Linked DNA regions of Homo sapiens. The protein of the gene in region 1 interacts with the protein of each later gene in a pairwise test. Each region holds a gene or a part of one and is shown on either strand. Other genes may lie near its edges. The genes, in order: TANK, RACGAP1, INPP5K and COPB1.

Region 1 (3,577 bases):
TAGCCAAAAATTTCACTTGTCTTTGCTACTATCTACAAACAACTCAGGATTTTTTTAAAAAAAAAATTATTATTATTATTTTGAGACAGGGTCTTGCTCTGTCACCCAGGCTGGAGTGTGATGGCACCATCACAGCTCACTGCAACCTCGAACTACCTAGCTCAAGCAATCCTCCCACCTCAGCTTCCCAAGTAGCTGGAGGCCACAGGCACAAGCCACCACACCCAGCTACATATATCTATATAACTATACGTATTTGTAGAGACAAGGTCTTACTATGTTGCCCAGGCTGGTCTCAAATTCCTAGGCTTAATCAATCCTCCTGCCTCAGCCTCCCAAAGTGCTGGGATTATAGGCATGAACCACCGTACCTGGCCCAACTCAGGAATTTTGTACTTATACTAGCTTTGTACTTATACTAGCTTGCATAATACTAGCTTTATTAATACTAATAAAATAGCTTAAAAGGTTTTTTTTAAAAAACTCATTTTAAGAAATATTCTTTCCATCCTAAACTGTAACATGGTCTTCAAAACAAACTAATTTCTTTGCTTTTTCTGCCAAAATATCAATTATCTAACCTTATGCCCCATGTCTTGTGACAACTCAACACTAATTCTCCTGAATTTTTTAAGCTGAATACTTTTCCATCAAGTTGTAATCACATACCAGCTGTTTCCCTTGCTGTAGTATAGAAAGCAAATGTACAATGCAGGGTGCCATCTACTGAAACATGAATGCACAGACTAGTAAAAGAACAAGCAAGACATATAATAGAGAAAAAAGTAACAAGCATTAGAACTGATGCACTTCACAGCTCCACAGGAATTCTACTTGCAATAAATGAAATTGTTTAATTTGTTTCATTTAGTAGCAACTATAACTGAGACTATGATGTGAAATAAAGTACAATGAACAAGAACATAAGTGAGGTTATAATTAAAACTTATTGTCAGCCATGCCTAGTTCTTCCCACTACTAAAATATACCACAGCTTGACAACTGCCTTCTTTGCGTGCTGATTTAAGTCTATAACCTATATGTGTACTTAAAGCAAAAGGGTATTAATAACTTTTTTAAAAAAATTAAATATCTCAAGGCAAAGAGAAATCAGACAAATGTTTGCAAGTTACATAGACATTTACATCAATCTGTATTTTCATAAGCTTCTGTTTTTTGTAAAAATTATATAGTTTTCATTTGCTTTCAGACATTAAACTTTTTTTTAACTAAAAGAATCATTCTGTGATAGAATTTGAATCTAAAAGGGAGGGCAGGAGTGGTTTGGGGGATATTAGTCTGTGAGCTTTAGAAACATTAAATAAAATATTTGATATCATACACATGCAGAGACTATTTAAAAAATATACTAGGCTACATGTTCATTTCCAGATTAGCAACCAAAACCAAACTAAACCCTACAGATCTGTGTACTATATAACTGAAGATGTAGTAGAAGTATTCACTGAAAGATAGTTCACTTATTTTGATAAATAGAAATGTAAGATGCAATTATTTACTTATGAAAGATCTTGAATTCTTATAAAGATGAATATGATATACACAAACTATTAAATAAAACAGCATTTGTTTCACACTATGAAATTTAATATTCTTATTAATCCTGAGTAAACAAGCTTTGAATAAGGAACTAAGAAAGTGACACCACGACAGATATGGATAAGGCTTAACATGTATTTTTAAATCTGACATAAATTCTAAGGTACTTTCCAATAAAGTTTTACCATATTCAGCTTTTCTAATTTCATGTCATTTATTATGGGACTTGTTTTTTTGAAAGCCTTAACTTTGGCTGTCAGTAGTTTAAAAAGGATGTTTGATAACGTAAAAGAGATGCATATCTGTGCATGTATGGCAAAATGTGTGTTCACACATAATAATATATTTGTTAATGCAAAACAGTTACCTGCTGTGGTCCTCGGATTGCTTTTCCCGGGGAATCGAGTGAGGGAAAAGGTGCATCAGATGGGTCCAGAAGTGGGAAGCTATTTACATATAATGCATTATGGTCTCCAGGTGGCAAACACGCAGCTCTATCCAGAGTTGTCCTGATACAAGTGTTTACGAGATTTGAGGGCTTTGTTTTGTCAGTTGTTTTAAGGTTTTGTATAGCTGAAGCTATGGGGTCAATTCCCTGAATTTCAAATAAAGTTTCTTCTGTTTTAACAAAGTTCCCTGGGTTGTCTCTGAACTCCATATTAAATTTCTCTTGGCACACTGCCTCAGACGTGGCAGGACTAAGGATGCCGGGTCTCTCTGGAGTGCTATGTAAGAAAGTTGAGTCATTGTCCATAGGTGGAAACTTGACATTGAATTTAGAAAGTGATTCAAAAGAGGTGTCTTCCTCATCTCTGCACAGTCCTCTTGGTGTGACAGATGTGATGGATGGTGCACCTCTATTTATATCATCTTTAGCCTGAGGCTTAAACAGCGCTTCTTGTTTATCTGTTTTATCCGTACACTGTATAGGCACAGAGCACTGTGTTTCTGGAGGGAGAAGAACACAAAAGAGAAACAGCCGCATTCAAATCATTAAAAAAATCTGTTCAATCAGCTTTGGAGAGATTATTATTATTTTTTCTATTGGTTTTTATAGCAAATGAAGACAACTGGGATTTTAAAATTTGCTACCATCTTACACAGAATATTAGCAGTCTCCAGCGGGTGAACTGAAACATAGCTTATTAGTCGCAATTTAACTACTTTGTCTTTTCCTAAGTCTTCTGCCGTAAGCTTTGCATCTTGTTCACAGTTACACTGCTCCACACTTGAAAAACATTTGCTTGTAGTGTATACATTTAAACATTTTGTCAGTAACGGAAGCTATAACTGTGAGTTTGCTTAGACAAATAAGTTGTTAAAAGGGAAAATCTTACTAGGTATATCTAAAATTAGGTCATTTATTATTAATGTCACTGTCTAACTAAGTATATCACTAATCAGTTTAGCCACTGTCTGCTCTCAATAATCCATGTGAGGGACTGGTGGTTGCAGGAGTTGGGAAAAAGAAGACAGTGAAGGCAAAGGAAGGATGAAATATTGTGATGCATGTTAAGAAAACTGTGGATGAATAGATTATTTTATCATCTTATATCTTTTTTTAAAAAAGACCTCTGTAAAAAACAGGTAAATATCTGGTAGACAAAAGGGCCTCTGTAGCTCATTTATCTAGAACCACTTATCCAACAAATTCAGCTTTGTAGGACACAGTCAAAAGCTAGAAAGAAAACAGAGCTTCTGAGGAGCCAGAATTAGAGCCACAAGGTTCATAGATAGATGAATTTTGTTCCTATTGTCATTTTAGATTTATTCTAACAAACTTGGTGGTATTTCCACAGCTCATAGCTGGTTTGAAACAGCAAATTAAAAGGGAGTATGAGTTGCTAAAGGCAGACATAGATATCAACAAGAGCTAAAAGCATAGGAAGAGATAAGAAAGACAAAGAAGCTGATATAAGAACTTAGAAAACACTACAGTCTAGTATAGGGCCAATGAGTGCTCAATACAAAAAAACAATCATCAAAGTACTCTCCATGTTGATGATTCTGAGACACT
Region 2 (2,993 bases), on another chromosome or scaffold:
ACTCTGTCACCAGGCTGGAGTGCAGTGGCGGGATCTCAGCTCACTGCAAATTCCGCCTCCTGGGTTCCAGCAATTCCTTGTGCCTCAGCCGCCCTGGTAGCTGGGATTACAGGCATGCGCCACCACACCCAGCTAATTTTTGTATTTTTAGTAGAGATGGGGTTTCACCATGTTGGCCAGAATGGTCTCAATCCCCTGACCTTGTGATCCGTCCGCCTCAGCCTCCCTCCCAAAGTGCTGGGACTACAGGTGTGAGCCACCATGCCCAGCCTATTATATCTATATTTAAAAAACATATATCCATATGGATAAAGAAAGGAGAACATGGAAAAGCAAAAAAAAATTACGATGGTAGAATTATACAAATTTTCCTTTAATGTTAGAATTTTCAAACAGCTCTAGCAAAGGCAGGAAGAGGTCATATGACTAAAACTAAAGAGAGAGTCAAGTCCCTGAAGAAGCACATCTTGGGCCTTACCTTTAATATCTGGTGTCTGTGGTGTTGAAAAGGCATTTGAGTTTTCAATGACATGTAGGGGGTCAATGTTCTCTTGCTCCACCATCATGAACTGACTCCAATACTCCAGAGGCAAGGAAAGCAGGCGCTCAACCACCTAAAAGCCAGCAAATCTGTTAGCAAACTTCCAAAGCTCAGGGCTTCTCAACTGTCTTTCAAGTTATCACATTACACAAGTTCACATACACACACACACGCACCTGCCTACCTTGGGTTGACGCTTGATGTCCTGTAACATTGTCACTGGGTCTGGATTGGGCACAGCATGGGCCACTATTGTAGGGCCAAAGACTTTAGCCAGATTGGCAACATCCATTTTAGTATGTGGACTCTGAGCCACTCTAAGCAAAAGAATATTAAATTAGAAGTCTTGCTCCTTGCTTAAATGCAGACCAAAATATAAATTCTATAAGAAAACAATTCATCCCTCATACTCCCAAACACTCAACCCACATTATCTTCCCCTTGGAAAAAAATTCCCTAACTCCCAGAACAAGTTTCTGCTGTACTCACCTCTGCAAGTGAATCATGAGGAAAGCTAATGTGTCCCTGTTGGCCTGGGGCAGTTCACCAACAGCTTGGTACATGGCAGCTATGCTGTTGTCTTCATCTGTGATTTCTGTAATTGAAAAGAAAGCACCAAGAGGCCTAGACTTCTTTCCCTTGACAGCGGGCTTCCAAGTTATCGACCACAAAGTCTCATCTATACAGTAAGCTTCTGAAACTCCTGATTAGTTCATGACTACATCAGACTCTAGTTTCATTAACAAGCAGGATACTGGCCAACAGCTCAATATTAGAAGTCAAAACTTTTAAAAAATCGGCCTTTGCAGTTAGGGAAAGCAGTTGGCAACTGATGTGCTAGGCAGACAGGCATACAATTGCAGTGACTACAATTACCAAGAAGGTATTCATTCATGAGACATATTTAAGGGCCTACGATGTGCCAGGTACAAGTGCTGAGGATAAAGCAGAAGTAAACAAAGCCCTTATCTTATGGAACCTACATTCTATTGGTGGAGTCAGTCAAAAAGCAAATACCTATCAGGTAGAGTGATACATAAATGAAGAAAACAAGGCAGGCAAGAAGCTAGAAAGAAATGAGAGCTGTTAATCTAGACAAGGTTGTCAGGAAAGGTGTTTCTGGGGACAAGGTATATGAAGAGAAATATGAAAGAAATAAAGGAGCAAACCATACTGTATCTAATGTAAGAGCATTCAGGTTGAGACAACAAATGTGAAGGCCTTAAGGTAGGGAGTAAACTTGGTATATTCTAAGAATTGAAAAAGCTCCAACCTAACTGGAGAGGAAGGAAAGAAAGGAAGAACACTGTACACAATAACGTAATGAGAAAGCAAGAGGATAGGCAAGGGTGACACGCATACAGTTACTCATCCATCAAACTACTTGAGCACCTACTATGTTTCAGGCATTGTACTAGGCAGGAGCTAATAAAAAGAGGAAGGTGGCCAGGTGTGGTGGCTCATGCCTGTAATCCCAGCACTTTGGGAGGACAAGGTGGGTAGATCACCTGAGGTCAGGAGTTTGAGACCAGCCTGGCTAACATGGTATAACACCGTTAACGCCTGTAATCTCAGCTACTCAGGAGGCTGAGGCAGGAGAATCGCTTGAACCCAGGAGGCGGAGTTTGCAGTGAGCCGATAGCGCCACTGCACTCCAGCCTGGGCGACAGAGAAAGACTCCGTCTTAAAAAAAAAAAAAAAAGAGGCTGGGCACGGTGGCTCACGCCTGTAATCGCAGCACTTTGGGAGGCCGAGGCAGGCAAATCACAGGGCAGGAGATCGAGACCATCCTGGCTAACATGGTGAAACCCCATCTCTACTAAAGATAGAAAACATTAACCAGGCATGGTGGCACACGCCTGTAATCCTAGCTACTCAGGAGGCTGAGGCAGGAGAATCGCTTCAACCTGGGAGACGGAGGTTGCAGTGAGCTGAGATTGCGCCACTGACTTCAGCCTGGGCGAGAGTGAGACTCTGTCTAAAAAATAAAAAATAAATAAAAAAATAAAGAGAGTAAGAAAAACTACTGCCGTGGAGGAATTCATATTCAAGTATTACATCTGCCCTTACCTGCTGCTTCCATAAAGGCTCTGTTAAGGCGAAAGGTCAGAAGAGGTTCTTTGAGGTTTCGAAGAAAGTCTTTTAGAAGGCTACAGATAGCATGGATATCATCCACTTTGCTGAGGAGGGGTACAGTTTTCACTCTGAGGAATTTCTCTTTCAGCTCTTTTACTGTGCGGTCACAGCCAGAGATCCTATACAGGCCTGTCTATTATCAAGATGACATTTTTATTTAAAAACCTCCGAATTAACACAAATAACAAATTCACCATCTCCTACAGTTGACTCTTACCTCAGTCAGACCTCTTTGCTCAATCTCATTTACACAATGCACAACAATGGAGGGGATCATTGGAGAAGTCTGGGACACAAAGTCTGCCAGCATTCCCTG
Region 3 (2,845 bases), on another chromosome or scaffold:
TCGCAGCATCATTCCCTCCTCTGAGGCCAAGTGTTCCTCACTGTGCCCTTCCAACATAGTGGGGAAGGTGGGGCACCCAGAGGGGGTGGGCATGGAACTCCACTGGGCTGCTCCAACGGACCTTGGCTGGCCATCAGGAAAGAGGGCCGAACACCAGTCGGCGGGTGGCTGGCCCTGTCGGAATCCCATGGGGCCCAGCGCTGGGGGGTAGGAATGGCGGAGAGCAGAGGCACGGCTGAGAGGCTTAAGGAGGCGGCCAGGCAGCTGCTCTCAGGCCTCCCGCCTTATCTGACCCAAAGCCCCACATGGGGGGATGCTCTGGTGAGAACAGCTGTGAACGTGCAAGAACACAACGCAGATACCAGCGGGGGCCAGGCACGGTGGCTCACACCCATAATCCCAACAGTTTGGGAGGATCACTTGAGCCCAGGAGTTCGAGACTAGCCTGGGCAACATAGTGAAACCCTGTGTCTACAAAAAATACATAACAGCCAGGCGTGGTGGCGTGCACCTGTAGTCCCGCTACTAGGGAGGCTGAGGTGGAAGGATCAATCACTTGAGCCCAGGAGGTGGAGGCTTCAGTGAGCTATGATACCGCCACTGCACTCCAGCCTGGGCGGCAGAACGAGACCCTAACACACACACACACACGCCAGTAAACCTGTATGAAAACGTGAAGGCTGAGGGGCAGCAGCCTGAAGGAGGCCAACACCACCTTGGTCATTCAGATAGCAAGATACAAGGACGCAGGGATGGAGGGAGCGCCCGTTGCAACTTGATCCAGATAGATTTAGGACAAATAAAAGAAGTCCTACTTCTCACATTGGGTAATAAGCCTAATGGAACTCATTAGCCCCAAGGGAGAATACCCAAAGGAAATGGAAACCTTTTCACAAAGGGTTTGAACACGGTTTTGACAGACAGAGCCATCAACGGCTCCTAAGAGGAGCTGGGATATCCGACCTGGCAGGAAAGGCAATCATGGCCTCCACAGGTCTCCCCTGGGGGACTGGCTGACATTCGAATCCAGGGATGGAGGGCTTGGGGATGTGGCCAGCATAGCTATTCCTCTGGCAAGTATCAGGCAGCCCAGAAGTTCACCTCCAAGTCGAACGTGCCGGAGACAGGCTTGTGGTCGCTGATGCCGTACGTCATGTGGCTGCTGTAGCCCCTCAGAGACAAGGAGAAGTGTGACGCCGGCGGTATGGGAGTGTCGGGGCCAGCACAGGGCTGCCGCTTCAGCCTCCACAGGATGCGATCGGTCCATGCAGGCTTGCGTTTTTTCTCACTGCAGGGGCAGGGGGCATAAAGAGGAAGAATGGGGAAAGAAGAAAGGGTTGGCTAAGAGCAGAAATGAGCCCACATGAGCTTGCTGGAGCCCCTAACTCCAGCAACTACTGGCAGCCACAGACCCCCGGGGCCAGAGCCGGAGGGAGCAAGGCAGCAGGCAGGAAGGTGCCTAACAGAATCCAAAGTATGCCAGCACTTGTCAGACTTAGCCAGGACCCTCTGTATGTCTAGCTCATGTTTTTATGGATCAAATTGTGACTCAGAAACATTCCATTTCAAAGCTTTGCTTCTTTCTTGAGCAAAAGCAGCAGTGGATCAAAGCAGCTGAGGTTTGAGATTCTGAGGCTGGACACACCTGAGCTTGTATTTGGCTGCCCTGCATACTAGAAGTATGCCTCAGGAAAGGGAAGGGAAGCATTTAGGAAATGCTTACCAGAGGATGCCTGTGATCAGTACTGTTACCACACCTTTTTTTAAATTTAATTTTATTTTTTTAAAGAGACAGGGTCTTGCTCTGTCATGCAGGCTGGAGTGCAGTGGTGACATCACAGCTTACTGTAGCCTCAAACTACTGGGCTCAGGCGATCCCACCTCAGCCTCCTGAGTGGCTGGGACGGTAAGTGCGTGGCACTATGCCTGGCTAATTTTTAAACATTTTTTTGTAAAGACAGTATGTTTCCCAGCCTAGTTTTGAACTGCTGGCCTCAAAGGATCTTCCCATCTCAGCTTCCCAAAGTGTTGGGATTAGAAGGCATGGACCACTGTGCCTGGGTGTATCATGCTCTCTTTACAGGTGGAGAAACTGAGACTTAGCTTAGAGGGGAAGCACCTTTCCCAAAGTCACAAGGTACTAAGTGGTGGAGCCAGGATTCAGGGCCAGCCAGCATGACCACAGAGCATGTGCTCTTAACCACCAAACTAAACTAACCTCTCTCAGGCCTCAACTTCCTCGCCTGCCAGTGGAGGGAATAACAGTAGTTACCATGAAGGGTTGCTAGGATGAGTCAATGAGATAAAGTACATAAAATGTTTAGCACAGTGCTTGGTGCAAAACGAGCTCGCCATGCACACTGGCCTTTATGATTTCCTCTCAAGAGTCGACTGAGAGGCCGCGCGCGGTGCTCACGCCTGTAATCCAAGCACTTTGGGAGGCCAGGGTGGGTGGATCATGAGGTCAGGAGATCGAGACCATCCTGACTCTCTACTAAAAGTACAAACATTAGCCAGGCATGGTGGCAGGTGCCTGTAATCCCAGCTACTCGGGAGGCTGAGGCAAGATAATTGCTTGAAGCTGGCAGGCGGAGGTTGCAGTGAGCTGAGATCATACCACGGCACTCTAGCCTGGGCGACAGAGCAAGACTCTATCTCCAAAAAAAAAGGAGTCGACTGAGAGACCTCCCACCTGTTCTTCACTTGCCAGTTTCCCTGAGGGGTTTGGAAAAGGTAATACGCTCCGGAGACAAAATGCATTCCTCCTCTAGGTAACTGAAGTTGACCAAAGACGAGTCTCTGACCCATAACCCAGCCTTCCGAAGCAACTACTGTGGCAGTTTCT
Region 4 (2,477 bases), on another chromosome or scaffold:
TATATAAATTAAAACCTACTTGTTTGGTAGCAGACATTATTTTATTTATAAAATGAATATTATAACATTATAGAAATTTTACATAAAGAAAAAAGTTCCTTAGAGCTCCAGCTTCATTTTTCTTTCTCTCTCGTTTTTTTCATACATACACAAACATAGCAAAAAGTCACAGTATAACAACGATTCTGTATTTGAGCACATATATTTTAACCAACAATCAGAGCCCACGGAAGAGCTCATGGACATTTTCTAATCCAGTATTACAAATAAACGATTTTATTTATCTTTTTGAGACAGAGTTTCACTCTGTCACCCACGCTGGAATGCAGTGGTGTGATCTCGGCTCACTGCAACCTCCACCCCCTGGGGTTCAGGTGATTCTCCTGCCTCAACCTCCCAAGTAGCTGGGATTACAGGCACGTGCCACCACACCTGGGTAATTTTTGTATTTTTAGTAGAGATGGGGTTTCGCCATATTGGCCAGGCTGGTCTCAAACTCCTGACCTCAAGTGATCTGCCCGCCTCAGCCTCTCAAAGTGCTAGGATCACAGGAATGAACCACCATGTGCAGCATAAACTACTTTAGAATGTGCCTCTAGCTGAATGGGGGAGAAGATTGAAAAGAAAATAAAAAAAAAATTAATCTGACTATTCAGTTGGGTCACTGCACTAGGAAAAAGTAGGATGGTATAGTCCAATAGAAAGAGGTAAGCAGATTCCAACATTCTATGGGATAACATCTTTTAGATAGCCTAGAATGGTACTGCATATTGAATAACAAAAATGTGCTAGAGGAAATACAGGAAGGCCAGGAACCTACTCTACCATTCCATCAGATTTCTGAATTTCCTAGTCAAATTTTACCTTTTCTGGAGTCAGGCATTTCATATTGGTTGACTTTAATATGTGCTGTAAGTAGTCATTTAAATCAACCATGTTGGTGTTAACTGTCACCTGTAGAGAGGAAAAAAAAGTCAAGGAGATCATAAATCTTACTATGAGAAAGCTGTGAATCACCAGTATGTCATATTAAAAACTTGTTCCAACTGTTTAGGTTGGAAAGAGTAGACACCAAGAAACTAAATAACATCTATAAAATCCAACAAGCTGTAGGTTGGTATCAGTACTTCCCAATAGAGATAACTTCACAGAGATTCAATATGAAGCATATAGAATATTTCTTTTTTTTTTTGAGACAGGGTCTCACTCTGTCACCCAGGCTAGAGTGCAGTGCGTCATTTCAGCTCACTGCAGCCTCAACCTCCCATGTTCAAGTGATCCTCCCACCTCAGTCTCCGGAGTAGCTGGGACTACCACACCGGGCTAATTTTTGTATTTTTTGTAGAGATGGAGTTTCACCATTTTGCTCAGGCTGGTCTAGAACTCCTGAGCACGAGCAATCTGCCTGCCTCAGCCTCCCAAAGTGCTGGGATTACAGGCACGAGCTACCGTGCCCAGCCTCATATAGAATATTTCTAATAAAAGTCAAGGCTCAAAGGGACAAAGTTCCTCAACAGACCATGAACTTTGTAAAGCCTTTTTCGGGCACTAGATTAAATGGTAAGCTCTTGGTCATACATAGAAGGGATGGAATATTACCTATAATGTCTAAACCTATCAGATTGGCTATAGAACTGCTACTCTAATCAATTTATAACAGCAAATTACCAAACTACTTACATGATTTTTAGTTAAGGCTAATTTGCAAGAACAGATACTGAAAGACTATTTGCTTTTCATGTTAAACACTTTTTAGCGAGATTAATTTTATTAGCAGACTCCTCAACAGCAGGCAAAAGGAAGAAAGATAAAGGAATATGAGAAAATCTCCCAAGGACTAACTTTGTTTTCCCATTCAAATTCGGCCCACATCTGACGGAATTCTGCATCAGTGCAAGTTGCAGGCTGGATATAGTCCATGATGTCGATGTGAATATCACTGAGAACCACACAATTTCTGTCACTTGCTGCTCCAGAGACATCATAAACTGCAATTACATATACAAAAAGATTCGCAATCACTGGGGCAAACTTGAATTTAAAAAATCTTAATATCCAAATATCCAAAGAACTACACTATTAACAATAAGATTGTTTATATAATACTTATTATGTACAGAGCTCTATTCTACATGCTTTATAAATATTACTGGTTTAATACTCCCATCAATTCTGATAGTATTATTATTTTCCATCTTACATATGAGGAAATGAAAGCAGAGAAGTTAAGTAAGTTGTTCCAGATCACACAACTGATAAGTGGTGGGGATAGGATTCGAACTCAGGCACACTTTGTTTTTTGTGGTTAAACAAATAATTCAATTCAGTGAGTACTTACATAGCAGTTGCAGCATACTAGGCACTGCAGCAGATATACAAGTGGACGATGTTCCCATAGGAGGTACTTAACTAATACTTTTGAATAAATATTGCTGACCCATACTACTTAATGATACAAGATTAGTCATCCCTCAGTA

The links.
Region 2: the proteins of TANK (region 1) and RACGAP1 interact in a two-hybrid assay, tested with the Homo sapiens proteins (one large-scale study listed by BioGRID and IntAct).
Region 3: the proteins of TANK (region 1) and INPP5K interact in a two-hybrid assay, tested with the Homo sapiens proteins (one large-scale study listed by BioGRID and IntAct).
Region 4: the proteins of TANK (region 1) and COPB1 interact in a two-hybrid assay, tested with the Homo sapiens proteins (one large-scale study listed by BioGRID and IntAct).

Annotation. Positions count from the first base shown.
Region 1 is NC_000002.12:161,229,902-161,233,478, reverse strand, and holds part of TANK (TRAF family member-associated NF-kappa-B activator), read right to left. Parts: intron 2,509-3,577; coding exon 1,928-2,508; intron 1-1,927.
Region 2 is NC_000012.12:49,991,520-49,994,512, forward strand, and holds part of RACGAP1 (rac GTPase-activating protein 1), read right to left. Parts: intron 2,991-2,993; coding exon 2,895-2,990; intron 2,811-2,894; coding exon 2,612-2,810; intron 1,137-2,611; coding exon 1,031-1,136; intron 859-1,030; coding exon 726-858; intron 615-725; coding exon 479-614; intron 1-478.
Region 3 is NC_000017.11:1,496,835-1,499,679, forward strand, and holds part of INPP5K (inositol polyphosphate 5-phosphatase K), read right to left. Parts: intron 1,289-2,845; coding exon 1,102-1,288; intron 1-1,101. UniProt on the Homo sapiens protein: Inositol 5-phosphatase which acts on inositol 1,4,5-trisphosphate, inositol 1,3,4,5-tetrakisphosphate, phosphatidylinositol 4,5-bisphosphate and phosphatidylinositol 3,4,5-trisphosphate.
Region 4 is NC_000011.10:14,459,344-14,461,820, forward strand, and holds part of COPB1 (coatomer subunit beta), read right to left. Parts: intron 1,989-2,477; coding exon 1,843-1,988; intron 955-1,842; coding exon 865-954; intron 1-864. UniProt on the Homo sapiens protein: The coatomer is a cytosolic protein complex that binds to dilysine motifs and reversibly associates with Golgi non-clathrin-coated vesicles, which further mediate biosynthetic protein transport from the ER, via the Golgi up to the trans Golgi network.